4 linked regions of the Homo sapiens genome follow. The protein of the gene in region 4 interacts with the protein of the main gene of each other region in a pairwise test. Each region holds a gene or a part of one and is shown on either strand. Other genes may lie near its edges. The genes, in order: SCARA5, CERCAM, MAGEA2B and P4HA3.

Region 1 (7,681 bases), on a different chromosome or scaffold from region 4:
AGCCTATGGGAGGGATGGAACAGGGGGTGGTCCTCGGCTCTGCCAGGATCTCTCCTCCCTGCCCCAGACACCACCCACTCTGGCTTCCCTGTGCTGCAGTGGTGTCCAGTTCACTGGGCTCCCAATTCCGGCCCTCCACCCAATGCCTCCACCCAGGCAGGGCCTCTAGGTGGGGCCGCGGGCAGCTCCAGCACTGCTAAGTTGCAAGGGACCCTCCCTCATTTCATGAGCACTGTGTGCGGCAGCCCTCCCTCTGGCTTCACTCCTTGCGGGGCTGTGAAGCAGGAGGCCAATGTCTCTTTTGCCTGCAATAACCCTCCCTCTGCCAAAGGCAATAGCCTCTGCTTCCCAGAGGCCACACAGAGCCAGACAGGGCGCTGCCCCTGGGGAGTGGAGGTGTGAGGCCCCACTGCCATTTCCACCTTCCTCCTCTTCTGGTCAGCTCCTGGGACGGGGCTGGAATGCACGGCTTGTTAGCCAGAATGTGTGTGAAGGGCAGCTGTCTCCTTCCTCCTCCCCACCCCTCAGCTGGTCCAGCAGGAGCCCAGGGGATCTGCTGGGGAGAGGGACTGGGGCCGAGCGGGGCCAGATGTGAGTGCACAGGGCTTGGAAAAGCTCAGACAACTCTACTCATGTTTGTTACTTGGAATTGAAACCTACGCATGTTCTGTCTGCCCAAGGTTTCTTGGGGGCTGTTTTTCTTTCTTGGGGGAGGAAGCAGGCATTGGGACCCTCAGATCATGGATCTTACTGTCTTTGGACCAAGTCTGTGCTCTAGAAGATGAAACTGATGGCAAGTGCTCCTCCCAGGAGCACTGTGTTGGGGGTAGGCTGATGGCATTTGCATTCCGTCCCTCCCATTTTAAACATAAGCCATCCCAGACCAAAGAGGCAAAGGAAGGAATGGATATCAGAGCGGGAAGAGGCCCCGGGCACAGTTTTCCTACACAGGGCACTGGCTCAGCTGCAGGGTTGCTTTGTTTGGGAATTGCATGTCAGCCCCTTTGGTGACCACTTTCTGGGCCCCAGATCAGGCAGAGAAGAGAATCCCACCTCAGACTGCCAGCCAGTGTACTCCAGCAGGTGGGGATCCTGGGACTGAGGCAGGGCTCTGAGAGCTTGAAGCACATGGGCGAGATGTGGAAGCCACAGTGACCTGTGGATGAAGCCCAAGGAGACTGGACCTCAACTTGCAACTCAAAGAGGGAGGTCTTGCTCTAACAGGGAGGTGTCACCCTCTCCACTAACCTCTTGGCAATCATGATTTACTTCCAGACAATTTCACCCAAGGCACTTAGAAGGGCAGGTTCAGAGCCAGGGATCTGCTTCTAGATTCTGCATTTTAGAGCTGGAAAAGCCCTCAGCCATCTGTGCCCTGCAGCCCTGTGCCCTGGGGCCATCTGCGCCCTGCAGGCCTGGCTCTCTGCAGGAATGCAGGGAACACAGAAGCCAAGGGCTCCCATCCTAGCTCCTCTGCGTATTGGTTTCTTGGGGGAACTTGGCTCAATTACCTGACCTCATTCAGCCTCAGGTACATGACCTCTAAGATGGGAAGGTGGGTAGCTGCTGGTCACCCAGGATCACTGTGAGCCTCCCGTGAGATAATGCATGTGGCATGACTTTATGAACAAGGTCACTCAGGGGAGCTGGTGGCAGTCTGATGAGAAAAAGCATCCCCCAGCATCTTCTGACTCTGCCTGGCAGCCAGGTAAGGGGGTGTCCAGGTTCCCAAGGCCTCCCTCCTACCTAGCCAGTCTCAGAAACAAAGCTGTTTGAAGTTCCCTTTGTAAAAGGCAATCGCGAATGCACTCTAGGGCTGATATCAGGACCCTGGCTCTTCAATCCTTCTCTGGAGATCAGAAGGACTCCATTAATTCCTCCTCTGAGTGGGTAGCACGAGCCTCATTTGCTGCTACCAAGTCAGTTTCTCTGGGTACCCGCATCTAACTCTGCAGGGTTTATGGCTTTTCTTTGGATTACCTCACTTTAAACTCATCAAAACCAAGGAAAAAAATCACATGAGTGTGGCCCTTCTCCAAAGAGAGAATCACTAAGGAGGTTTTAAATGTTTTCCTCCTCTAACTGTACTTAGTTAAGCTAAATCATAACCCAAAGCTGGACAGAGACAGATATTTTAGAAATAACCTCTCCCCACATATATCCCACCACTGGCACATGCACACGCACAGACATGCACACACACACACATGCACACACACACACATGCACACACACACATGCACACACACACATGCACACACACGAAGCCATGGAGAGGAGCTGTCACCTGAGCCATCTGCACCCTGAGTAGGCTCTTGAGCTGTGACATGAGTCAGGTGGAGTAGCCACCAAGGCAATAGCTTCCCTCTGGCACCCCAAATGCAGGCTCACATTCTCTCCAGCCCAGGCAGTTGGATGAGGGCCCGGCAGATATCTGCGGGCCCAGCAGGCGGGGACCTTCCCACCTGGAGAAGGCACCTCCAGGCTCTAGGTCTGAAGTTTCCCAAACTCTGTACTCCTCTCCATCCAGTTCACTCCAGTCTCCTCCAGCTGTCTTTGAGACAGCATGCCCAGGAGATAGGACAAAATTAGTACCAAGACTCACCTGAGTGCCCCTGGCTGAGGCTGTAGAGCCTTGTCCCCTCAGATCTCAGCATTTGCCATGGTGGCCAGAGAGCTGGCTGCCACCACGCTGAGAGCCAGGCCGCCCCTCGGACCGCGTCCCCACAGCCAGCCAAATCCAGATGGAGTCATAGAAAGGGGCTGCAGGGGCGCCCAGGGACGAGTCTCAGAGCAGGACCACAGGGGCCACTTCTGCAGGAGGACCAGGTCAAGATGCAACCTGTGGCAGAGTGGGGGTCTGGGCCTGGGGGACCCAGAATGGGGGGTGTGCGCCTGGGACTCCCTGTCCTTGGTGCCTGGTCCTGGGTAGCGATCAGGAGATGTTCTGAGGAGGCACCGGCAGCTCCTCTAGGTACTGCCTGAGATGCGAACTGCAGCTGCTCTCGCCGCCAGTCCGTATAAAATAAAGTTCTTGGAGCAGTTGCGGAGGCTTCTGCAATGGGGTCTGGAATACGGCCCCCCTCCTGCGGCCAATCGTGGCATTACAGCCCCGTGTGGGAACGCCCGCTGGGCCCAGAGCAGCGCGGTCGGCCTTGGCCTTGGGACTCCAACACCCCAGTCTAAAGGTCCTGCTCAAAATACTTTTTGGAAGACTTCTGGGGGAGTGGCAGCTAGACCTGGCTTATGAGCCACGCAAGAAAACCAGTCTTGTAAATTTATTTATAGCACAGAATTGGCATGGCTCAATTCATTCACCAAGCTTGGCACAGAGTTACTTCATGTATTTTCCTGGAGTCACATTCATCCTCAGTGGACACGGATTGGCCACACTGGGGGTAGTCAGGAAAATGCCCCAGGGGGTTCCACGGAACTCAGCAGCAGAATCAGCGTTTCTGGCTCATTAACGCTGCACAGGGGCTGGGGGGTGCAGGATGAAGACTAGCTGGCTGTCCATAGCAATTCAGTATGGGAGGGGGACCCAGGCACGAATAATCCTAAACCTGAGCATGATTGCTTACGTTTGAAAAAGGACATCTAGGCCGGGTGCAGTGACTCACACCTGTGGTCCCAGCACTTTGGGAGGCTGAGGTGGGAGGATTGCTTGAGCCCACCCACAAGTTCAAGACCAGCCTGGGCAACATAGTGAGACCCCATCTCTAAAAAAAAAAAAAATCTCTTTAAAGGCAATCTAACCATATGTGAAGGGAGCTGCTAAATTCAGATTGAGGTGGTAGTATCAGGGGCATCAGAGAAATCACCATAATTGTCCAAGCCAGGGTGGCAGAGTTAGGCTATGCAGATGGCTTCCAGAGGACAGCACCCAGAGGTAACATTCATGAATGCATTCCTGTTTGTTGGTGAAAAGTTCAGCCTCAAGACTCCAGGGTCAGGCTTCGTACATGAAAAGTGTTTGCCAAGACTCAGCTGTGTCACTGCAGCTGCCCGCCCACAGCTGAGTCAGAAACGCCGTCCTCATTCTCAGTGACTGCCCTGCCTGACTGCCTAGGAAGCAGCTCCAACATCAAACTCCATTTTACAGAAAGAACAAATGATAATTGTATCATTATGGTAATAATCCCAGGGAGCGGAGGAGGAGAAGGAAAAGAAGACAACACTTTATAGCATATACCATGTGTTTCTTATATATTAGCTCATTGAACCTATTCAACAACCCCCTGAGGCAGGTGCTGCTATTATGCTCATTTACAGAGACAGAGAGGAAGTGACTTGTCCAGGGTCTTGTAGCCAGTAAGTGGCAGAGCTAGTATTCAACCCTAGGCAATGTGATCCTAGGGTCTATGCTCTTAACCCCTCCCCTGTACCATTGCCTCTCAAGGGGAAACAAATGTTTTTGTCCCCCATCAATTCACCAACATTCCTAGGAATGTAATCTTAAAAACAGCCAGAAATGTGCTCAAAATATGATGTCCAACCAGCCTGGGCAACATGACAAAACCCTGTCTCTACAAAAAAAAAAAAATACAAACAATAGCTGGGCGTGGTGATGCACACCTGTAGTCCCAGGTGCTTGGGAGGCTGAGATGGGAGGATCAACTGAGCCCAGGAGTTTGAGGCTGCAGTGAGCTGTGATCGCACCACTGCACCCCAGACTGGGTAACAGAACAAGATCCTGTCTTAAAAAAAAAAGTGATGTCCAAAGACCTTCCCTAAAGAGATGTGTATGTTAGCAAGAAATGTGGTAGTTAGTGTCCCCCTAAATTCAAGCATTGGAAATGTAATCTTTATTGCAACAGTGTTGGGAGGTGGGGCCTTTGTGGGGGTATTTGAGTCATGAATGTATTTGGGATGCCGTAGAAAGGGCTTGCAGGAGTGGGCTGGCTTGATCCTCTGCCTTTCTGCCATGTGAGGACTCCACGCTCATCCTCGCTTGTCCTCCCACCTCCCGCCCTGTTCGAAGCACTGAGTCCTATTGCGTGATAGGCACATACCACACACAATGTGTATATCGGTCTCCTGCTGAAGGGGGTTTGGGATGTTTCCAATCTTTGTCTATTATGAATAAAGCTGCCGGAACAGGCAAAGGGAGATTTGACAGTGAAGTATAGGAATGACCTGGAGGGCTGGTTTTCTCATGGGTGAGAGTCCTCCCGGCAGCTCTTAGCTCAGATACCTCCTTGCCACTAAAATCAGAATTGTCCCCAAAATGATTTGCTTCCATTCAATCACGGATGGCATTTGTAGTAGGCATTTCCCCCCCAGAAGCTGAATGAAAATGTGATTGCCTTGATAGAGGAGGGTTCAATAGACTTCTGAAGTAGTTTCATCTATGAAATCTCAGTATTTGAAATGGAGGGACCAAGCTTTTTCAGTTTGTTTTTTCTAGAGGTAGGATGTCACTTTATCACCCAGGTCGGAGTACAGTGGCACAATCATAGCTCACTGCAGCCTCGACCTCCCAGGCTCAAGTGATCCTCCCACCTCAACCTCCTGAGTAGCTGGGGCTACAAGCACATGCCACCACACCCAGCTAATTTTTTAAAATCCTTTGTAGAGATGAGGTCTCGCTATCTTGCCCAGGCTGGTCTCAAACTTCTGACCTCGAGCAATCCTCCCGCCTCCACCAGCCAAAGTGCTGGGATTACAGGTGTGAGCCACCATGTCCAGACTCCATTTTTGACTCTGATAAATGGTGCTGCTGTGAACATTCTTGTGTGTGTCTTCTGGGGAACATATGAATGCCATTCTCTTGGGCATATACCTGGGCATGGAATCGCCAGGGCATAGGATGGCCCTGTGTTCAGCTTTGGTAGACACTGCCAAAGAGTTTCCTATGGTGGTTGTACTAGTTTATATCCAGCAGGGGATGAAACTACACTTATTCCTTGTCCTTGTCAGTGTCAGTGATGTTTATTCCATTTTCCCTGCTCTGGTGCATTGTAGAGGTGCCATATTGTGGTTTTAATTTGCATTTTCCTGATGACTCATGAAGTTGAGCACCTTTAATTATGTCATTAAGTCTGATTGTTGACTTGAACTCTGGGCCCGTTACACCAGCAGGTCCTGCCCTATGGCTTGGGGTTGGCTGTTCCATCTGCCTGGAGTGGTTCCACCAGATGTTTGCACAACTAACTTCTTTGCCTCATTCCCATCTTTTCTCAAATGTCACTTTGTTCATGCTGCTGAGCCTAATGATTCCTACCCACAGGCCAGGCATGGTGGCTCACGCCTACAATCCCAGCACTTTGGGAGGCCAAAGCGGGAGGATCACTTAAGGTCAGGAGTTTGAGACCAGCCTGGTCAACATGGTGAAAACCTGTCTCTACCGAAAATACAAAAATTAGCTGGGTGCAGTAGCAGGCACCTGTAGTCCCAGCTACTCGGGAGGCCGAGGTGGGAGGATCACTTGAACCAGGCAGGCCGAAGCTGCAGTGAGCCAGGATTGCACCACTGCACTCCAGCCTGGGTGATAAAGCGAGACCTGATCTCAAATAAATAAATAAATAAAATTGCTACACACCCCTTGCCACTCTTAGTCCCCCTCACCCTGCTTGGTTTTGCTTACTGTCTGCTAGAACAGCAGCTCCAGGAAGGCAGCTCACTTGAGTGCTTCAAAATGCCTAGCAGGGTGCCTGGCGCACAGTACACGCTCCAGAAATATTGGTTGTGTGACAATCTGAGGAAACAGCATCAGGCACAGGGAACAGAAGGCTCAGAGGCCTCAGTATGGAAACACACTGGACATGCCGGAGGGGCAGAGAAAGGCCCAGTGGCCAGAGCACAGAGGATGCAGTGGCCAGAGAGAGGAGGTCAGGGGAGAGGGAAGCCTGGGTCTCACCCTGAGCACAGAGTGGAGCTGAGGCCACGCCCTTCTTTTTTGTCTCTATCTTCTCCCAGGGAACACATCGATCCTGTACTGTTCATATTTTTGCTTCTTTTTTTTTTTTTTTTTACATATTTCTTCATTATAGTTTGCTACTTCTTGTTTAAACTTTTTAAAAAAATTAATTGTGGTAAAACACACATTGCATAAAATTTGCCATCCTAACCCTTATTTATTTGTTTGTTTGTTTGTTTATTTATTTATTTATTTATTTATTTATTGAGACAGAGTCTTACTCTGTGGCCCAGGCTGGAGTGCAGTGGCGTGATCTCAGCTCACTGCAACCTCCACCTCCTGGGCTTAAGCAATTCTCCTGCCTCAGCCTCCCAAGTAGCTGGGATTACAGGGGTGAACCACCACGCCCAGCTAATTTTTGCATTTTTAGTAGAGACGGGGGGTTCGCCATGTTGGCCAGGCTGGTCTCAAACTCAAATGATCCACCCGCCTCAGCTTCCTAAAGTGCTGCGATCACAGGTATGAGTCACCATGCTCAGCCCTAACTGTTTTTAAATACATAGTTCAGTAGTGTTAAGTACATTTGAATTGATGTTCAACCAGTCTCCAGAACTCTTTTCATCTTTCAATACTGAAACTCCACTCATTCAACAACTCCCCGTCCCCTGTCCTCCAGCCCCTGGCACCACTCATTCTCCTTTCTGTCTCTTTGAATTTGACTACCCCAGGGACCTTGCTATTTCTTTATCTGTGGCCTACTCTGCAAAAATACACTCGAAAATGTTTACCTTTAGTATTTTCTTTTTGGTTAGTTTTTAATCT
Region 2 (6,991 bases), on a different chromosome or scaffold from region 4:
AAAAAAAAAAAAACATTAGCTGGGCACCTGTAATCTCAGCTACTTGTGAGGCTGAGGCAGGAAAATCACTTGAACCTGGGAGGTAGAGGTTTCAGTGAGCTGAGATGGTGCCACTGCACTCCAGCCTGGGCAACAGGGGCTCCAGTTCCCCAGGTCCAGTCCCTTGACAGCTTCAGGTCACACAAAGGAGTTACAAGGCAGAAACCTTCTTCAAACCCGACTCCAGTGTGACTGTCCCCAACATGCACAGGCCTGGCCCCTCTGGAGGGGTCTCTGGCAGGCACCCCTCACCCCGCCACACCTGTGTCCCTCAGGATGCTCAACAGCAGTGCCATCAGGAACCTCGGCGTAGACCTGCTCCCGGGCTACCAGGACCCTTACTCGGGCCGCACTCTGACCAAGGGCGAGGTGGGCTGCTTCCTCAGCCATTACTCCATCTGGGAAGAGGTGAGGGTGCCTGCTTCCTCCATCCACAGCCTTCGGGGAGAACGGGGCCAGTTTGTTCTATTCACTGCTCTGTGAACGAGTGAGTGAATGAAGACATTCATCAAAACCTGGCCAGCAGCTTTCAATCTCCTCTGTGTTCAACACCCCAGTGGGCACCACTAAGCGGTGCTTGTTTTCATTCTGCAGTCTCTCTTGAGCATCTACTATGTGCTAGGAGATATTCTGCTCTGAGAACACAGAGGAGGACAGGAACAATGCATGTCTGCTCCTTCCTGCAATAAAGGGATCCCCCTGGGGCTCAGGGACCAGAGCGGGATTATGGAAATCAAAACCAAGCTTGCAGTGGAGGGGAGAGGTATGGGCCACTTTGAGAGGTGCCTCGTGTGGGAGGGGGTCAGAATGGACCTCACCATTGAGGGGCCGGGAGAAGAGGCTTCTAGGCAGAAGAGAACAGTGGGTGCCAAGGCCCTGAGGCAGGAAGGTGTTTAGGAGCAGAAAGAAGGAAGCCTGGGGCTTAGCATGTGCTCAGTACTTGGCCAAGAAGCCTCGGCCCAGGGGCTGGGAGTGTGAGCGCAGGAAAGAGGTTGCTGGACACGGCAGGAGAGAATGGGAACTGGGCCCTCCAAGGGCAGCCCTTCCAGGAGATGGGACATGGATTCCTTGTTTGTGTTCTCTGCTATAGCCAAATATATGTGCACGTGTATGTGAGCATTATGGGTTTTTGTTTTGTTTTGTTTTCTGAGATGGAGTATTGCTCTGTCACCCAGACTGGAGTGCAGTGGCACAATCTTGGCTCATTGCAACCTCTGCCTCCTGGGTTGAAGCGGTTCTCCTGTCTCAGCCTCCCAAGTATCTGGGATTACAGGCATGTGCCACCACACCTGGCTAATTTTTCTATTTTTAGTAGACAGGGGGTTTCGCCATATTGGTCAGGCTGGTCTCGAACTTCCAACCTCAGGTGATCTGCCCACCTCGGCCTCCCAAAGTGCTGGAATTACAGGCTTGAGTCACCATGCCCAGCCTATGTTGGCTTTTTTACCGTCCCTGAACAAATTGGAGGATGACATGGTTCACTACTTTTTTTTTTTTTTTTTTTTTTGAGACAGGGTATTGCTCTGGCACCCAGGCGGGAGTGCAGTGGCGTGATCTTGGCTCACTGCAGCCTGGACCTCCCGGGCTCAAGCAATTATCCCACCTCAGCACCCCCGAGGAGCTGAAACTACAGGCGCGCACCACCACACCCAGCTAAATTTTGTATTTTTTGTAGAGACAGGGTTTCGCCATGTTGGCCAGGCTGATCTCAAACTCCTGAGCTCAAGTGATTCCACCCACCTCAGCCTCCAAAAGTGCTGGAATTACAGGCATGAGCCACCGCTCCTGGCTTCACTACTTTCTGAGCTGATTTCCTTTTCACAGAAGTTATCAAAAGTAGTTTTCCAAAAGTTATTCTAAAGTAACTTTTCCAAAAGTTATCAAAAGTACTTTTTCTTTTGGATATTCGGGGCTGGGGTCTTCCCACCCCCCACCCAGCCCAGCTTCCTTTAGAAAATAGCAGGAGGCCAGGCCAGGTGCGGTGGCTCACGCCTGTAATCCCAGCTGAGGCAGACAGATCACGAGGTCAGGAGTTCAAGACCAGCCTGGCCAACGTGGTGAAACCCCGTCTCTACTAAAAATACAAAAATTAGCCCGGCGTTGGCCGGGCGCCGTGGCTCACGCCTGTAATCCCAGCACTTTGGGAGGCCGAGGCGGGTGGATCACGAGGTCAGGAGATCGAGACCATCCTGGCTAACACGGTGAAACCCTGTCTCTACTAAAAATACAAAAAAATTAGCCAGGCGTGGTGGCGGCGCCTGTAGTCCCAGCTACTCGGGAGGCTGAGGCAGGAGAATGGCGTGAACCCAGGAGGCGGAGCATGCAGTGAGCCGAGATTGTGCCACTGCACTCCAGCCCGGGCGACAGAGCAAAACTCCGTCTCAAAAAAAAAAAAAAAAAAAAAAATTAGCCCGGTGTGGTGGTGGGCACCTGTAATCCCAGCTACTTGGGAGGCTGAGGCAGGAGAATCACTTGAACCCGGGAGGCAGAGGTTGCAGTGAGCCAAGACCATCTTTTGATGGGAACTGCAAGCCACTTCCCCGCCCCCAGAGAGTTGGGCTTCTGGGCCCAGCCACCATCTGTCATGCTTGCACTCAGGCAGCTGGAGGAGTGGGAGGGGAGATGGCTCCTGGTCTTGGCCATGGCTGCTTTGGCCTCCACCGTTCCTGCTCCTCTTCCATGCAGCCCCCTGACTTGGGGGGCCATTTCACTCCAGTCTGGGCAACAAGAGTGAAACTTCGTCTCAAAAAAAAAGGAAAATTGCAGGAGGCCAAAGTGACAAGCTGGGCCCTGGTGTTCAGCAGATGCGGGTTCATATCCCAGCTCTGCCACTTCCTGGCTGTGTGTCCTTGGACAGGCAGTTTCCCATCCCTGCATGTCCACCTCCTTCCTGCGATTGAGGATCATCATCTCCTGCCTCCTGAGGGCCCCTGCAGATACGCAGTGGCACAGCCCTGGGGCACAGTAGCACTCAGGGAATGTAGCAAGGGCCACGGTTACCATCATGATTCTATCTGGAGATCCTCAAATGCCAGAGCGAGGTTGGGATTTCCGGTCCCAGGCAGTGGGGCCCCCAGCAGGCTTTGGGGCAACTGCATGATGTGGCCAGGCCAACTGAGGCCAGGCAGAGGCTGTGAGCTTCAGCGTGGAGGGAGGGGGGTTGTTTAACTCCGAAGAGCCATCTCCCACCCCATTGTATGCCACAGGTGGTTGCCAGGGGCCTGGCCCGGGTCCTGGTGTTTGAGGATGACGTGCGCTTTGAGAGCAACTTCAGGGGGCGGCTGGAGCGGCTGATGGAGGATGTGGAGGCAGAGAAACTGTCTTGGGACCTGATGTAGGCAGCCTGCACCCTCAGGGACAAGGGGGCAGGGTGGGCCTCCGGAGTCTGCCTTTTCCTGCTTGGGACCCTGGCCGGCCCATCCCCTGAGAGCCTGGCCCTGTAGGAGCGGGTGTGGGAGGGTCCCATGACACCCAGGACCTAAGTGACTCCTGGGCCCCTTGGTGTCACTTACAGCTACCTCGGACGGAAGCAGGTGAACCCTGAGAAGGAGACGGCCGTGGAGGGGCTGCCGGGCCTGGTGGTGGCTGGGTACTCCTACTGGACGCTGGCCTATGCCCTGCGTCTGGCGGGTGCCCGCAAGCTGCTGGCCTCACAGCCTCTGCGCCGCATGCTGCCCGTGGACGAGTTCCTGCCCATCATGTTCGACCAGCACCCCAAGTGAGGCTCTGATGGGGGCCGGGCATGGCAGGGCAGAGGCGTCCCCTCCAGGAACTCACCTCAGTCAGCAGGAAGTCCCCTCACCTGGCAGATGGGGAGACTGGGACTGGCAAGGCCAAGCCACTTGGCCCAGGTCACCAAGGAGTGGCTCAGCCTAGCCTTAGAGTCAGTCCATTCTCGGTGTGTACTTTGCACAGTGCATGCAGGCTTTTTTTTGAAATGGAGTCTTGCTCTGTTGCCCAGGCTAGAATGCAGTGGCATGATTTTGACTCACTGCACCTTCTGCCTCCCAGGTTCAAGCAATTCTGCTGCCTCAGCCTCCTGAGTAGCTGGGATTACAGGGAAGTGCCACCACACCCTGCTAATTTTTATTTATTTATTTATTTATTTATTTATTTTTGAGATGGAGTTTTGCACTGTCACCCAGTGCGGTGCAGTGGCGCAATCTTGGCTCACTGCAACCTCCGCCTCCCAGGTTCAACTGATTTTCCTGCCTCAGCCTCCTGAGTAGCTGGGATTACAGGTGCCTGCCACCACACCAAGCTAACTTTTTTGTATTTTTAGTAGAGACAGGGTTTCTCCATGTTGGCCAGGCTGGTGTCGAACTCCTTGACCTCAAGTGATCTGCCTGCCTGGGCCTCCCAAAGTGCCGGGATTACAGGCATGAGCCACTGTACCCAGCCTCAATTTTTGTGTTTTTAGTAGAGATGGGGTTTTGCCATGTTGGTCAGGCTAGTCTTGAACTCCCGACTTCAGGTGATCCGCCCGTCTCGGCTTCCCAAAGTGCTGGGATTATAGGCATGAGCCACTGCGCTCGGCTGCATGCAGTTTTTAATCAAATGACTTCCTTGTTCTCAGCCTCTGTTTCCTCATCTGGAAAATGGAGGTAGTAGAAGTCCCACTGCTCAGGGCCGCTGTGAGGACTAGATGGCGGGGAGTGAGGTGCTTTGGGCAGGCAAGGTGCCTGGCTCCGGGCAGGCATGTGTCCGGGGAGTAGGGGCCCGCCTCAATCCCCCTGAGCTATCCTCTCACCTTACAGCGAGCAGTACAAGGCACACTTCTGGCCACGGGACCTGGTGGCCTTCTCCGCCCAGCCCCTGCTCGCTGCCCCTACCCACTATGCCGGGGACGCCGAGTGGCTCAGTGACACGGAGACATCCTCTCCATGGGATGATGACAGCGGCCGCCTCATCAGCTGGAGCGGCTCCCAAAAGACCCTGCGCAGCCCCCGCCTGGACCTGACTGGCAGCAGCGGGCACAGCCTCCAACCCCAGCCCCGAGATGAGCTCTAGGTGAGGCCAGGGCGGGAAGAGGCCCCAGCCCCGTAGACCTTGGCTTGCTCTCCCCTTTGATGGCATAACTGTGTCTGGGGCTGTTTTCCCCTTCTCAGCCTTCTCTCTCCCTCTCCATCTCTAGCTTTGCCTTTATGTTTGTTGTTGTTGTTGTTTGTTTGTTTTTTTTAGACGGAGTCTCGCTCTGTCGCCCAGGCTGGAGTGCAGTGGCGTGATTTTGGCTCACTGCAACCTCTGCCTCTCGGGCTCAAGAGATTCTCCTGCCTCAGCCTCCCCAGTAACTGGGATTACAGGCACCCACCACAAGGCCTGGCTAATTTTTCTATTTTTATTTTTATTTATTTATTTATTTTGAGATGGAGTCTTGCTCTTTTGCCCAGGCTGGAGTGCAGTGGCATGATCTCAGCTCACTGCAACCTCTGCCTCCCGCGTCCCGGATTCAAGCGATTCTCCTGTCTCAGCCTCCCGAGTAGTTGGGACTACAGGCGCCCACCACCACGTCCGGCTAAATTTTGTATTTTTAGTAGAGACAGGGTTTCACCATGTTGGCCAGGCTGGTCTTGAACTCCTGACCTGAGGTGATCTGCCCGCCTCAGCTTCCCAATGTGCTGGGATTACAGGCGTGAGCCACCGCGCCTGGCCTTTTGTATTTTTAGTAGAGACAGGGTGTCATCATGTTGGCCAGGCTGGTTTTCAACTCCTGACCTCAAATGATCCAGCCGTCTCGGTCTCCCAAAGTGCTGGGGATTACAGGCGTGAGCCACTGTGCCTGGCCTCTGTGTCTGTCTATAATTGTACCTTCAGCTGTCTCCGCATCCCTCTCTAGCTTTTTCCCTCTCTGTCTGTCTCTGCCCCTGTTTTCCTATATCTGTCAGTGTCTGTCTGTCTCTGATTCTGTCTGACTCTAATTCTCTTTCTCTTCCTGCTCCTCCTGTCCCACCAGGTCCAGGTGATGACTGCAAAGCAGTGTCCAGGAGCAGGCCACTACTGCCCAGAGAGCAGAGGAGGAGGTTGTTGGCAGGGACTGCAGATCCTGTCAGACCTGGCCACCACCTTGGGCATGGCCACTCTGCCCTCTGGACCTGTCTTTCATCGGGAGAAACCACTCAGAGATGGATCCCATTCCCTAAAGGTCTCACAGCAAAGGAGCAGGACTCCCAGGCCCCTGTACCCTGCCTGGCCTGATTCAGGGCCTTGTGGCCCCCAGCTTCTGTTTCAAGCTGGGCAGACCCCAGGATCCCTTCCCTCCCTAAGGACTCAGCTGAGGGGCCCCTCTGCCCCCTTCTACCTCCACCTCAGCACCCTCCCCCAGCTTGATGTTTGGGTCTCCCCAGCACCCTCCTCCCTGGCCGGTGCAAAGTACAGGGAGGTAAAGCAGGACCCTTGCAGACATGTTGCCCAGCACACAGTAGGCCCTCAATAAAAGCCATTTGCACTTTAAATATATATATGTATGTATATATATGTATATATATATATATATATATATGTATGTATGTGTATGTGTATATATATATATATATATATATATATATATGTATGTATGTATGTATGTATATATATATTTTTTGACACAGGGTCTCCCTCTGTTGCCCAGGCTGAAGTGCAATGGCGCAAACCCAGCTCACTGCAGCCTCAACCTCCTGGGCTCAGGCAATCTTCCTGCTTCAGCCTCCCATGTAGCTGGACCACAGGCACATGCCACCATGCCTGGCCACATTTTTTTTTGTAGAGACTGGGTTTTGCATGTTGCCCAGGCTGGTCTCAAACTCCTGGGCTCAAACAATCTATCCACCTCGGCCTCCCACAGTGCTGGGATGAGAGGCGTGAGCCACTGCACCCTGCCACTTTATATATATACATATATATACACGTATATACGTATATATACACGTATATATACATATATACGTGTATATACACGTATATACACATACACGTA
Region 3 (7,671 bases), on a different chromosome or scaffold from region 4:
AAGGTGTCGGAACAATTAGACACCTATACACAAATTATAATAACCTGGACATATCCTTACATATTCCATGAAAACTAACTCAAGATACATCATAGGTCTAATGAAAAATGCAAAAACAATACAACCTCTATAAGAAAACATAAGAGAAAATCCACATAACTTTGAGTTTGGTGATGAGTTTTTAAATTCAACACCAAAAGCATGATCAAGGAAAGAAAAATTTGCCAAGTTGATTTTATTAAAATAAAAATCTTATGCTCTTCAAAGGACAATGTTAAGAGAATGAAAACAGAAGCCACAGACTAGCAGAAAACATCTGCGGTACACATATGTGATAAAGAACTTGTCTCTACAATATATGCGAATTCTTAAAGCTCAATGATAGAAAAAATGAAAATAGTCAAAGATCTGAACACACACTACACAAAAGAAGATATACACATGGCAAATAAGCATAATAAAAGTACTGAGCACCCTTTGGCATTAGATAATTGTGTACTAAAATGGGATACCACTGCACACCTATCAGAATGTCCAAAATCCATAGAAAACCAAAACAAAGAATACAAGACCAAGAACAATTGCCAGCGAAGATGTGGAGCAACGGAAACTCTCCTTCATTGCTGGTAGAAATGCAAAATGGCACAGCCACTTTGGAAGGCAGTTTGGCGTTTTCTTAAAAAAATGAAAATAGACTTAGCACAAGATTCAGCAGCCATACTCAATCAATTTACCCAATTGATTTGAAAACTTATGTCTACATAAAAATTTGTATATGAATGTATACAATAGCTTATTTCATAATCACCAAAAATAGAAGCATCCAAAATGTATTTCATTTGGTGAATGGATATATATATATATATATATATATATATATATATATATATATAACCAGACATTGATACTACTCCTCAATGAAAAGGAATAAGTTCCAAGCCACACAAAGTTATACATGACTCTTCAGTTCATTATGCTAAGTGAAAGAAACCAGTCTAAAAAGGCTACATAGTATAAGATTCTATTTATATGACATTCTGGAAAATGCAAAATTATAAAGATGAAAAACCTATCAGTGGTGGCCATGGGGTTTATCCGACAAGCACAAGGGAATTTATCAGGGCAGTGAAACTGGTATGCATAATACTGCAATGGTGGTTCCGTGCTTGCTTTGGTCTGAATATTTGTGTTGCCACAAAATTCATCTGCTGAATTACCAAGGTGATGGTATTAGGCAGAAGGTGGGGTATTTGGAGAATGACTAGATCATGAGAGCAGAGTCCTCATGAATGGGATTAGTGTTTTTATAAAACAGACTCCACGGAGATCCCTTATCCCTTCTTGCATGTGAGGATCTAGGGAAAAGGCAGCTGTCTATGAACTAGGGAGCAGGACTCCACCAGACATGAAATCTGCCAGCACCTTGATCTTGGACTTCCCAACCTCCAGAATGTGAGAAATAAAGTTGCGTTGTCTATAAGCCACCCAGTCTATCACTATTTTTGTTATGGAAGCCCAAACGGACTAAGACAATGGCACGAGGCATTTGTCAAAACCCATAGATCTTTACAGCACAAAGAGTGAAGCTTAATGTATGTAAAGTTTAAAAGTAACTTAAGAGGTTGGAGAATCACGGGACGGCAGGTAGAATGTTCCACACACACACACACACACACACACACCTAGTTGTATAATAGATATATGAAACCACCACAATGAAGCAAGTGGGGGGAAAAGTTAACACATTTTGTACTCCATCAAAGAAATATATATTTTATAAAGTTTAAGTTGGCCAGATAAGTGTGTAACATAGTTGAACATTTGATAATCATTTATTTAATTTTTTAGATATGAAAACTATCGGCTTTTTGTTTTAAAAAAATCCTTATCTTTTAAAAATGCATATTAAGTTATTTAGAGATGAAATGGTCTAATGCCTTAGATTTACTCCACGTTATTCCAGCAGCTCATATGCAGGTAGGCGAGTGTTTAACTGGAACCAGATTTGCTGTGTATTTAAAGATGTTCATGCTCGGTATCAAGTATCCTGGGTTCATTATATTCGTTCCTGTTATTCTGTATGTGTGAAGGCTTTCCCTAATAAAACTTTTTTATCATAAATATGCCATTAAAAGTGAAATCCTAAATGAAACTGACCACTTTGTAGAAATAAAATAAATCAGTAACCAAACTGATCCAAAGAGGAAAAGAAAACTTTAACTATACAACAGAAACTGTACAATATTCAAAGCTCAAGCCACCCTCAAACATTCCAGGTTAGACAGCTTTGGAGGCCAATTTTACCAAATGATCAGGGAAAACTAACCACCGCCTTATATCAACTCTTCCAGAACATACAAAAGACTGACAATTGTTCAGTTCATTCTCCCAGGCTAGCCCTCCTGGATTTAAAAACCAGATGAGGACCACATACCTCCCCTGATGGAAAAAGAACACATCAAGTAAGCTCTCTTACACAGCAGTAAATATCCTACATAAATTAGTAGTACATTAAACGAATAAACAGGCTCTGCCCAAGGAAATAAAATATGATTTAACATTAGAAAAAACATCTGTTTCATTGTGATTCCTTACATACAAAATGGAAGAGAAAAAAATTTGATCCTGCCAACGGGTACAGAAAAAGCTTTTTAAATAAATTTAATATGAATTCATGGTAAAAAAGAAAATATTTAGGCAACCTATACTGAAAGAGAACTTCCATTTCCTAAAATCAACAGCAAACATACTTAAATGTCAAATGTTCGAAGAATTATCATTCAAGTCAGGAACGAGAAGTAGATGTAGCCTATTATCTCTACATTTGAAATCAGGATTGAGACACAAAGAGCTGTAAGTACCGAAATGAGTGAGTGGTATGAACATTGGAAAAACATGTAGTGTTTAGTGATAATACCATTATCGATCTTGAAAATTCAAAGGAAAAGGTATGCGGAATATTCAAGTGCATCGGCCTTCAGAACGAGGTATGCAACAGATTACTACAGCAAAATCAAAATCTTCACCTCACGAAAGCAATAACTAACTACAACAATTGATAGACAATATGCCACTTGCAATAGCAACAAAATCCAAGAATTACCTGAATAGAAGCCTAATAAAAATGTATAAGTTGTTTATAGAGGCAACTACCGAAGTATACTGACATATTCAGGAAAAAAGAGCTTGAAATCCATAGAGGAGTATAACATATTCATTCACGGGGAACACAACAGTGTAAAAATGTAAACTCAGCTTAAATTATTTACAATTTAGTGCCTTACCTGTAGCCGCCGACATTACAAGCAAATTTGGGCTGCTGTGCTCTGCTTCCCAAATCAACCCTGTAAATTTATAGAATGGAAACAGAAAGTAAAACACCAGTATCAGCAAGAAAATCTACACAACAAAACAGGGAAAGCCCAGAGTGAGACTGGAGACTGTGTTGAGCTGGTACTTGTGTGTGACACTTGCAGTGTCTGTTGGAGGGGGTTAGCGGCAGAGATGTTGGGGAGGTTTGTAGCCTGCCTAGACGGCAGATGAAAGAATGGGTAGAATAAAAGTTTTGAATTTTCCACTTCACTTCATTGCACAATCTGAGGCAGCCCCTGAAAACACGATGCCAAGAGCCCTAGGTAATAGCAGTGTCCACCAGGAAAATTGGGTTTGTTAAGGCAGCATGGCTCCAGAGTTCTGCTAATAACAACCTGAAACCAACAGAGTGGGAGAGGAATTATGTTTTTTAAAAAAATTCTTTCAACAGAACACAAAGACTGGAATGGAAGTAGACTAGGATATCAGAGTGAATCATGCATACTAAGGGTAGGTGTTAGTTCATAGAAATAAATATATATATTGCTACCTACATATATACTTAGAAGATATGTAAACCGTATTTCTTCAATTCAGAGAATAAATCATTTAGGACCAAAGGTTTGCCAAGTGTAGCTCTGGCTGGGGAGGAGCCCCCGTGGGAAGGTGTGCGTCTTCTCCCAGAGGTCACTATCATCGCGGGAGCTCCTGCCCTGCAGGGAGCACCTGGCCTGGCACCCGCAGCCATTCTCTACAAGGGGTGCAGATGCGCAGATGCGCAGATGCTCAGAGGTGACAGAAACAGAGCATCTCCCACCCATTCCTTCATCAAACAGCCAGGAGTGAGGAAGAGGACCCTCCTGAGTGAGGACTGAGGATCCACCCTCACCCACATAGTGGGACCACAGAATCCAGCTCAGCCCCTCTTGTCAGCCCTGGTACACACTGGCAATGATCTCACCCCGAGCACACCCCTCCCCCCAATGCCACTTCGGGCCGACTCAGAGTCAGAGACTTGGTCTGAGGGGAGCAAACACAATCGGCAGAGGATGGCGGTCCAGGCTCAGTCTGGCATCCAAGTCAGGACCTTGAGGGATGACCAAAGGCCCCTCCCACCCCCAACTCCCCCGACCCCACCAGGATCTACAGCCTCAGGATCCCCGTCCCAATCCCTACCCCTACACCAACACCATCTTCATGCTTACCCCCACCCCCCCATCCAGATCCCCATCCGGGCAGAATCCGGTTCCACCCTTGCCGTGAACCCAGGGAAGTCACGGGCCCGGATGTGACGCCACTGACTTGCGCATTGGAGGTCAGAGGACAGCGAGATTCTCGCCCTGAGCAACGGCCTGACGTCGGCGGAGGGAAGCAGGCGCAGGCTCCGTGAGGAGGCAAGGTAAGACGCCGAGGGAGGACTGAGGCGGGCCTCACCCCAGACAGAGGGCCCCCAATAATCCAGCGCTGCCTCTGCTGCCGGGCCTGGACCACCCTGCAGGGGAAGACTTCTCAGGCTGAGTCGCCACCACCTCACCCCGCCACCCCCCGCCGCTTTAACCGCAGGGAACTCTGGCGTAAGAGCTTTGTGTGACCAGGGCAGGGCTGGTTAGAAGTGCTCAGGGCCCAGACTCAGCCAGGAATCAAGGTCAGGACCCCAAGAGGGGACTGAGGGCAACCCACCCCCTACCCTCACTACCAATCCCATCCCCCAACACCAACCCCACCCCCATCCCTCAAACACCAACCCCACCCCCAAACCCCATTCCCATCTCCTCCCCCACCACCATCCTGGCAGAATCCGGGCTTTGCCCCTGCAATCAACCCACGGAAGCTCCGGGAATGGCGGCCAAGCACGCGGATCCTGACGTTCACATGTACGGCTAAGGGAGGGAAGGGGTTGGGTCTCGTGAGTATGGCCTTTGGGATGCAGAGGAAGGGCCCAGGCCCTCCTGGAAGACAGTGGAGTCCTTAGGGGACCCAGCATGCCAGGACAGGGGGCCCACTGTACCCCTGTCTCAAACTGAGCCACCTTTTCATTCAGCCGCGGGAATCCTAGGGATGCAGACCCACTTCAGCAGGGGGTTGGGGCCCAGCCCTGCGAGGAGTCAAGGGGAGGAAGAAGAGGGAGGACTGAGGGGACCTTGGAGTCCAGATCAGTGGCAACCTTGGGCTGGGGGATCCTGGGCACAGTGGCCGAATGTGCCCCGTGCTCATTGCACCTTCAGGGTGACAGAGAGTTGAGGGCTGTGGTCTGAGGGCTGGGACTTCAGGTCAGCAGAGGGAGGAATCCCAGGATCTGCCGGACCCAAGGTGTGCCCCCTTCATGAGGACTGGGGATACCCCCGGCCCAGAAAGAAGGGATGCCACAGAGTCTGGCCGTCCCTTGTTCTTAGCTCTGGGGGAACCTGATCAGGGATGGCCCTAAGTGACAATCTCATTTGTACCACAGGCAGGAGGTTGGGGAACCCTCAGGGAGATAAGGTGTTGGTGTAAAGAGGAGCTGTCTGCTCATTTCAGGGGGTTGGGGGTTGAGAAAGGGCAGTCCCTGGCAGGAGTAAAGATGAGTAACCCACAGGAGGCCATCATAACGTTCACCCTAGAACCAAAGGGGTCAGCCCTGGACAACGCACGTGGGGGTAACAGGATGTGGCCCCTCCTCACTTCTGTTTCCAGATCTCAGGGAGTTGATGACCTTGTTTTCAGAAGGTGACTCAGGTCAACACAGGGGCCCCCATCTGGTCGACAGATGCAGTGGTTCTAGGATCTGCCAAGCATCCAGGTGGAGAGCCTGAGGTAGGATTGAGGGTACTCCTGGGCCAGAATGCAGACAGGGGGCCCCATAGAAATCTGCCCTGCCCCTGCGGTTACTTCAGAGACCCTGGGCAGGGCTGTCAGCTGAAGTCCCTCCATTATCCTGGGATCTTTGATGTCAGGGAAGGGGAGGCCTTGGTCTGAAGGGGCTGGAGTCAGGTCAGTAGAGGGAGGGTCTCAGGCCCTGCCAGGAGTGGACGTGAGGACCAAGCGGACTCGTCACCCAGGACACCTGGACTCCAATGAATTTGGACATCTCTCGTTGTCCTTCGCGGGAGGACCTGGTCACGTATGGCCAGATGTGGGTCCCCTCATCTCCTTCTGTACCATATCAGGGATGTGAGTTCTTGACATGAGAGATTCTCAAGCCAGCAAAAGGGTGGGATTAGGCCCTACAAGGAGAAAGGTGAGGGCCCTGAGTGAGCACAGAGGGGACCCTCCACCCAAGTAGAGTGGGGACCTCACGGAGTCTGGCCAACCCTGCTGAGACTTCTGGGAATCCGTGGCTGTGCTTGCAGTCTGCACACTGAAGGCCCGTGCATTCCTCTCCCAGGAATCAGGAGCTCCAGGAACCAGGCAGTGAGGCCTTGGTCTGAGTCAGTGTCCTCAGGTCACAGAGCAGAGGGGACGCAGACAGTGCCAACACTGAAGGTTTGCCTGGAATGCACACCAAGGGCCCCACCCGCCCAGAACAAATGGGACTCCAGAGGGCCTGGCCTCACCCTCCCTATTCTCAGTCCTGCAGCCTGAGCATGTGCTGGCCGGCTGTACCCTGAGGTGCCCTCCCACTTCCTCCTTCAGGTTCTGAGGGGGACAGGCTGACAAGTAGGACCCGAGGCACTGGAGGAGCATTGAAGGAGAAGATCTGTAAGTAAGCCTTTGTCAGAGCCTCCAAGGTTCAGTTCAGTTCTCACCTAAGGCCTCACACACGCTCCTTCTCTCCCCAGGCCTGTGGGTCTTCATTGCCCAGCTCCTGCCCGCACTCCTGCCTGCTGCCCTGACCAGAGTCATCATGCCTCTTGAGCAGAGGAGTCAGCACTGCAAGCCTGAAGAAGGCCTTGAGGCCCGAGGAGAGGCCCTGGGCCTGGTGGGTGCGCAGGCTCCTGCTACTGAGGAGCAGCAGACCGCTTCTTCCTCTTCTACTCTAGTGGAAGTTACCCTGGGGGAGGTGCCTGCTGCCGACTCACCGAGTCCTCCCCACAGTCCTCAGGGAGCCTCCAGCTTCTCGACTACCATCAACTACACTCTTTGGAGACAATCCGATGAGGGCTCCAGCAACCAAGAAGAGGAGGGGCCAAGAATGTTTCCCGACCTGGAGTCCGAGTTCCAAGCAGCAATCAGTAGGAAGATGGTTGAGTTGGTTCATTTTCTGCTCCTCAAGTATCGAGCCAGGGAGCCGGTCACAAAGGCAGAAATGCTGGAGAGTGTCCTCAGAAATTGCCAGGACTTCTTTCCCGTGATCTTCAGCAAAGCCTCCGAGTACTTGCAGCTGGTCTTTGGCATCGAGGTGGTGGAAGTGGTCCCCATCAGCCACTTGTACATCCTTGT
Region 4 (7,028 bases):
CCTGCCTGTCCCTCTGGTGCCATCTGCATAAAATAATATGTTCTGTTTTTTTTTTTCTCAGTCACCAAGCAGCCCCCTCTACAGAATGAAGTCAGGAAACCGAGTTGCAACATTTATGATCTATGTGAGTATTGCTCTGGGCTTCTTACTTCATGACTGACTATAGCTCTACTTTATTTTATTGTTTTCAAAGCAATTTCACGTATTGATTTTATCTGGTACTCAGCGCAAAAATCTCCAGGAATTTTGCGAATTTCAGACAGCATTTTTGATAGGCACTGTAGGAGATGTAAAGAAATACAAGACAAGGTTTCTACCCTGAAAGAGGCTGACAGTGTGTAAATCTAAATATGACCTTGGTATGGGCAGTGGATTAGGATGGGAAGTGGAGCTCCACTGAAGGCCAAGAGATAGAGGGACTTGAACAACACAGGAGGAGGATCTGAGAATCTGTGTCCTTGAGGTCTCATGGACTAATCAGTGTTGAAAAACAACCCATAGATGAGGTTGTGGGGCTGTGGGGAGGGAGATGGATGAGGAATGAGGCAGCAGATTTACAAGAGGGAAGAACAGAGACACTGAGAGAAATTCAGCAAGTGCTGCCTCTGATGTTTAGTGAAAATTCTCTTCCTTATCTCTCTATAAAATCTTCAGTAAAATCTCCATGACTCCCCTTTCAAGATAAACCAATAAATTGTACTTCTCTCCTAATTCCTGGCCTGATCAGGATTCGGCCCCAGTCTGTATCATCTCACCTGTCCCCTTCCCTTCAGATCATGTGGGTTTACTTTCGTCTCTATGGACAAGCTTCCAATCACCTGTCACTGGAAGAGAATATTAGAATTAATCACTTATTAGAAGAGATACCTTACTGTTAACTGAAGGGACAAACATATATAAGGGTTCTATATAACAACCAAAGATGAAGTCCTTGTTTCAGCCTCATTAGAATAGCAGACATCCCTCACCCCAGCTTTTCCTCTTCTATTAGGACTGTCTCTGGTCTCCACAGGACAGCCAAGAAAGGGCAGTCAGAGGCCAGCATTCTGTGTAGTCTTTAATGCCAGCAATTCCAGTGTGTTTCTCTATGTGGCTCAGTTCTGTACTTCCTATGGAACTGGAAGGCTTCCACTTACAATGGTGTCTGGCCTCATTCTGATCATTCTGAGGTCAGCTATCAGGCAGGGGACACATCTTGGAGCTGCAGTTGGTTGCATCTCTGGTTGACCACTCCAGCTGTTATGGGAGGTCACAAACGGCGAAAGAATGAACTGCTGCCAAAAAACAGGGCATCTAGGGCACAATATATCTCTGTTCTTTATCCCCTCAATATCTCCTATGGCTGGTTCCCTGGTTACAGGGCCCCAGTTACTATAGCGAAGGTAGCGTGGGTATAAGAGCCCAGTAATTTTAAATGGCAAATGCATGTGTGTGTGTGTGTGTGTGTGTATGTGTGTGCATGCACTCTCATGCACTTTCACATGTGTGTGCATGCATGTGCATTTGGGTTTTAAGTATTTGAGACAGAGTGGAATGGAATACACTTTGGATTTGGAGTCAGTTGACCTAATCCTGATTTTGCCACTTACTATGTGGCCTCAGCACAGATTACATCTATTATGTGAGCTCACTTTTTGCCCTGTGCTTCCTCACAGTGTTGTTGTGAGGGTCTGATGAGATAATGTAAGGAGGGATGTCACTCTGGAAAGTTCCATACTGTATGTTTCTGTCATTGTATCCCACAGAGCAATTAAAGGAAAGGGTATCATAAAGGGGAATCAGTATCATGGGACCAGGGAAGTGCTAGATTATGCCCAAGTCTTTCATCTTCAGGTTGGGATTTCTCGAGACAATTTCAAGACAAACATTTCTCAAGACAAATGTTAAGGTTTGTGGGAAACCTAAGACTGATTTTATAGGGAGAAAATAATCTTTAAGAAGTACAGAGGATTGAGTTGAAGTCCAGTTGGTGATTTTCTGCTCAGATTGGACATAAGATCAGTCCCAATCTGGGTGCGGTGGTGTGCACCTGTAGTCCCCGCTACTTGGCAGGCTCAAGCAAGAAGATCGCTTGAGCCCAGCAGTTCGAGTCCAGCCTGGGTAACATAGTGAGACCCTGTCTCTATTAAAAAAAAAAGATCAGCCCCAGTACAAAATAGTAGAAGGTATACAGACGGAAGATTTCTCTCCCTTTCCCACTGTTCTTACAGCCCATGCCGTGCTCATGAGCTTCATTGCATGCAGAATCCGATTTTCTTTTTAATGTGTTGGCTATGTCATTCCTTTCCACCATATTGTAAAACCACAGGTAAAAGAATGCAGGAAAGTCCAGGTTGCCCCTTACTGACAAGGGCTAGAATAGAATAATCTAATTTGTTACCTGAACACAAGGAGCCAATTGTTGTTCTCATCGGCTTTCCCAGTGTGCTACAGGGAGAGCCAAGGAATGCTAATAGTCACCACTGCCATTTCCAGGTTCCAAATCACCATGTCAGTTCACTTGCATCTACCAAGGGCCAGCGTCCTACCTCCTATACCTCTTGCTCTGTAACACAAGTAAATGTACCGGGATCTGACTGCCATAAGATTACAGAGCATGAACCTTCTGGTAGATAATGCTAGGCAGCGTGAGGTAAAACTGGCACTCTTGTGTGATGCAACTGCTGAAAAAATAATTTAGCAAAATGTATAAGAAGTATGAAACTTATGCATGTCCTTTTGACCCCATAATACTAGTGCCAAGACTCTTTCCTATGAAAACAATCCAAAATGCAAAATGATTTTTTTTCATTAAGTTGTTCAGTGCAGTGTTGTTTATAATAGTAAACATTTGGATATGACCTAAATTTCCAAATGTGTAGCATGATGGTTATGAGCAGGGACTTTGTAGTCACATGGCACCAGCTCAGCTCAAATCCTGACTCCATCATGGAAGAGCCATGTGACCTTTTATAAAGTGCTTAAGCTCTCTGAGACTTGGTTTCTTTATCTGTAAAATGTGAAGAGTTAAAAATAATAACGATTGTAACTCCTAGGATTGTTCTGAGGAATAAATGAGATAATATATTTGCAAGGACATAGTGTAACTTTTAGCATATAGTCAGTGCCCAATAAATGTCAACTATCACTATGTAAACTATAACTTTTTTCTGGATGGTACAATGATAATTATTGTTATTTAAAAATATTTTCCTGTTTTAAAACAGTTTACAATTATTATATATTTCTGTGACAACCAGAAAAAAAGCTTCACATTAAGAAAACATATCCATAGTCCTAGAACAGACCAGTGATGAAACTCCTTAGCTTGGGTTCCCTGGAGAGGAGCAGAGTGATCTGGAGAATATGCCAAAGGTGTAATAAGTAGTTCCTATGATGCCCAGCTTTCAAGAAGAATCATAGTCTAAACTGGTTTTCAAGCCACAAGTCATGATCCATTATAGGTTGTGAGATTAATTTAGTGGTTCTGATGAGCATTTAAGAGAACCACACTAGAATAGAATAAAATAAAGTAGAGAAGATCAGAAGCTATCTCAGATATTAAGAATGTTTTATGACAATTATATTTCAGGAGGTGTGTGTGTGTATGTGTCTGTGTGTGTGTGTATGTGTGTGTGTCTTGGGTCATTATTTAAAATGTATTTTTTCCTAAGGGTCTCAGTCAAAAAGTTTGAATCTACTTATTGTAGCCCTCAATAAGGATGTTAGCTGGAAGGGAAAGAAAGGAAGAATACCAAAACATTGTCCTCTTGTGGCCCTGTAGGCAAACACCAATGCCATTGAGTAGGCTCCCGAAGTTCCTCCTGAGTTGGATGATTGTCTTTCAAGTATTTCTCTCAGAGTTGAAGAAAAGACCATGAGAAGGAATCTATGCAGATGTGACATCATATGACAGGGTAGGGAAGTCGGTGGCAGTTTTAACTCTGGCTTCTTCCTCTGGTCTTGTAGCTGAGCTCGGTGGAAGCTGGAGGAGCCACAGCCTTCATCTATGCCAACCTCAGCGTGCCTGTGGTTAGGGTGAGTGGGGCCCTGGTCCCAGAAGACGGGGTTGAGGGAGTGCAGCGCTTACCCTCTAACCTTCACGCTGTCTGTGCTTGCAAGCCCATTCCTGGGAGGAGGGCCAAAAAGAGGTCTTCCCCAATTCCCAGAATCACAGATCATCCCATAGTCTTCTTTACTACCGCACACATGCTCGTCACTTGTGCCTCTATTTGTTATTTTATTTACACTTATATTGCAAGTAGATGATTACATGTCTGTCTTCCCTGTCACAGTACAGCTCCTCAAGATAAGAGCTCTGTTTTATTTACTTTGGATCCTCTACAGCATCTAGTTCCTTCCATCATTAGTTCAGTCCACATTGAGAGCTAGAGGCACGGAGGGTGCAGAGGGAAATTCATAGCCCTTTGATCCAGGAGTTTACAGAGACGTCAGCAGGCATTATGATGTTGCAATAGGGATTTGGAAAGGATAGGCGCTGAGGAGAACTGAGTCTAAGAGGTTTGCTTCATGAATGAGTATTTCCTCCAAATTTCAGATCAGTCCAACTCCCTGGCAGCCCTTACCTAATTTAGGAATGAAATGAAGATAACTAAACGAGATCATTCCTGTAAAGCAGGTAGTACAGTGCCTGGCACATCCTGAGCATTCGATAATCAATGCCAGGTATCTCTGAATACTCAGGAGCTTGACGCCTCTTGTAGGCTTAGGAACATAGAGACTGCCAATGCATCCTGGAAAGCTCTTCATGACCTGGAGTTTTGTCTACTTTGAGGACCAAGGTTAAAGTAATTTGACTACAGGAAGTAGATACGGCAAAGAAGCCGTGTATGGGGGAAAAACATACAGGATTTAGCGTCAGAACACCTGGGCTTGAGTCCTCACTTTGCTCCTTCTTTTATTGCATTATTTAAAGCCCTGGGCCTCAAGTTCTTTGCTAGGAAACTGGGGATTATGATACTGCCTGCTCCCTGAAAGTGTTAATCATAAGTGCCTGAGGGAGGAAAAGCTTCTGAGTTAATGACATGCTTGGCTGTATGGGAATATTTTGTTCCACCTTGTGGTTTTGTTCGGTGTTTCTCCTCAGTGACCCAATGACAAATGTGCTCACCTTTCTCCCAGAACTCACCATGCTGTCTTGTTCAGGTCTGTTTTATGTCTGTTTCTTGTGAGCTCCTGGAGAGCAGAACTGGACGTAATTTGTCCCTGCAGCCCCAGGACCTGGGGTGCAGGGGACTCTGTCAGTGACCCATGCATGAAGGAGTAAATGGCAACTTATGCCATTTTGTGCCATTTTATGCATGCATTGCCCCCAGACTGCATGGAAAGGCTTCTTCAATGACATGCCTGCATTTGTCCTTAGTATGTGCTTCCCGAGGACTGAGGTTCTGGGCTGACCCTCCCTGGGGCTGGGCCCTCTTGTTTCAGAATGCAGCACTGTTTTGGTGGAACCTGCACAGGAGTGGTGAAGGGGACAGTGACACACTTCATGCTGGCTGTCCTGTCCTGGTGGGAGATAAGTGGGGTAAGTCTTGCCTTTCTGGGCATGAGAAGGGGGTACAGGGTGCAGAGTAGAGTGAAACAGGGGATGGGTGGGACCTACCACAGCCATCCCATTCCAAACGCTTCATTACAGTGCCACATTATATTGAGAAGATCAGATTATGAATGAGGTGCCCCCAACAGACTGGGAGCCTATAACAGGCAGGGGTTCCTGTTACAGAGTGACAGTCAGTAAAGGTTTATTCACCTGACCAGATAGGCCTTGATTCCTGAGCACTGCCAGAGAGGAATATGGTGTCCCATCCACACTCTACCCCAAGGAAAGATGTGTCAAGCCATTGTCTCTCCTGTTTAGTGCTCCCCATGAGGAGGTGGGAAAACAAAGAAGAGATCAATAAGCAGATGGACGTGTTTATGTCACATATACATCCAGGAGCACTTAGCTCTGAAACAGAAAGAGAAGTGGAAGGGGGCTCATAAGCTGAGGTGGAGGCTGCCAGGAGATGCCACCCGTTTTTCTCTCAGTACTCTGGAATGGCTTCATGGGGAACATGGGCTTCTAAAATGAAGGGTGAGTGATCTTAGTTCCCAAACGTTTGAAAATGAGTTTACAGGAGACAGGACCTGTGACTTTTTTCCAGAGGACAATGTCCTCTTTGCTATTTATCTGCTGGAAGAAACAGCTTGTAGTCCATAGTGAGGCCAGGACTAGGCTGGGCAAGTGAGTTACCTAGGATGCAGAATTTAAGGGGGCACTCACACGCGCCTATGAGTGCGCACCAGTCTGCAGCATTGCTGCTGTCTGTTCTGCTGAGCCTGCTGTCTCCTTCTTCCCTGTTCTCTCCCAGTGGCCAACAAGTGGATACATGAGTATGGACAGGAATTCCGCAGACCCTGCAGCTCCAGCCCTGAAGACTGAACTGTTGGCAGAGAGAAGCTGGTGGAGTCCTGTGGCTTTCCAGAGAAGCCAGGAGCCAAAAGCTGGGGTAGGAGAGGAGAAAGCAGAGCAGCCTCCTGGAAGAAGGCCTTGTCAGCTTTGTCTGTGCCTCGCAAATCAGAGGCAAGGGAGAGGTTGTTACCAGGGGACACTGAGAATGTACATTTGATCTGCCCCAGCCACGGAAGTCAGAGTAGGATGCACAGTACAAAGGAGGGGGGAGTGGAGGCCTGAGAGGGAAGTTTCTGGAGTTCAGATACTCTCTGTTGGGAACAGGACATCTCAACAGTCTCAGGTTCGATCAGTGGGTCTTTTGGCACTTTGAACCTTGACCACAGGGACCAAGAAGTGGCAATGAGGACACCTGCAGGAGGGGCTAGCCTGACTCCCAGAACTTTAAGACTTTCTCCCCACTGCCTTCTGCTGCAGCCCAAGCAGGGAGTGTCCCCCTCCCAGAAGCATATCCCAGATGAGTGGTACATTATATAAGGATTTTTTTTAAGTTGAAAACAACTTTCTTTTCTTTTTGTATGATGGTTTTTTAACACAGTCATTAAAAATGTTTATAAATCATTTTTCCCAACTGAGA

What was found.
Region 1: the proteins of P4HA3 (region 4) and SCARA5 interact in binary tests that used the Homo sapiens proteins (3 or more experiments, as listed by UniProt).
Region 2: the proteins of P4HA3 (region 4) and CERCAM interact in binary tests that used the Homo sapiens proteins (3 or more experiments, as listed by UniProt).
Region 3: the proteins of P4HA3 (region 4) and MAGEA2B interact in binary tests that used the Homo sapiens proteins (3 or more experiments, as listed by UniProt).

Annotation. Positions count from the first base shown.
Region 1 is NC_000008.11:27,989,652-27,997,332, forward strand, and holds the start of SCARA5 (scavenger receptor class A member 5), read right to left. Parts: upstream 3,023-7,681; 5' UTR 2,606-3,022; intron 1-2,605. UniProt on the Homo sapiens protein: Ferritin receptor that mediates non-transferrin-dependent delivery of iron. Mediates cellular uptake of ferritin-bound iron by stimulating ferritin endocytosis from the cell surface with consequent iron delivery within the cell.
Region 2 is NC_000009.12:128,430,857-128,437,847, forward strand, and holds the end of CERCAM (inactive glycosyltransferase 25 family member 3 isoform a precursor), read left to right. Parts: intron 1-314; coding exon 315-447; intron 448-3,245; coding exon 3,246-3,373; intron 3,374-3,553; coding exon 3,554-3,757; intron 3,758-4,796; coding exon 4,797-5,049; intron 5,050-5,992; 3' UTR 5,993-6,491; downstream 6,492-6,991. UniProt on the Homo sapiens protein: Probable cell adhesion protein involved in leukocyte transmigration across the blood-brain barrier. Does not express any beta-galactosyltransferase activity in vitro.
Region 3 is NC_000023.11:152,709,972-152,717,642, forward strand, and holds the start of MAGEA2B (melanoma-associated antigen 2), read left to right. Parts: upstream 1-4,656; 5' UTR 4,657-4,711; intron 4,712-4,875; exon of another isoform or gene 4,876-4,957; intron 4,958-5,107; 5' UTR 5,108-5,186; intron 5,187-5,985; 5' UTR 5,986-6,105; intron 6,106-6,676; exon of another isoform or gene 6,677-6,774; intron 6,775-6,924; 5' UTR 6,925-6,990; intron 6,991-7,070; 5' UTR 7,071-7,135; coding exon 7,136-7,671. UniProt on the Homo sapiens protein: Reduces p53/TP53 transactivation function through recruitment of HDAC3 to p53/TP53 transcription sites. Also represses p73/TP73 activity. Proposed to enhance ubiquitin ligase activity of RING-type zinc finger-containing E3 ubiquitin-protein ligases.
Region 4 is NC_000011.10:74,266,641-74,273,668, reverse strand, and holds the end of P4HA3 (prolyl 4-hydroxylase subunit alpha-3 isoform 1 precursor), read left to right. Parts: intron 1-61; coding exon 62-124; intron 125-3,948; coding exon 3,949-4,017; intron 4,018-5,427; coding exon 5,428-5,524; intron 5,525-5,857; exon of another isoform or gene 5,858-6,073; intron 6,074-6,350; coding exon 6,351-6,421; coding exon of another isoform or gene 6,422-6,608; 3' UTR 6,609-7,012; downstream 7,013-7,028. UniProt on the Homo sapiens protein: Catalyzes the post-translational formation of 4-hydroxyproline in -Xaa-Pro-Gly- sequences in collagens and other proteins.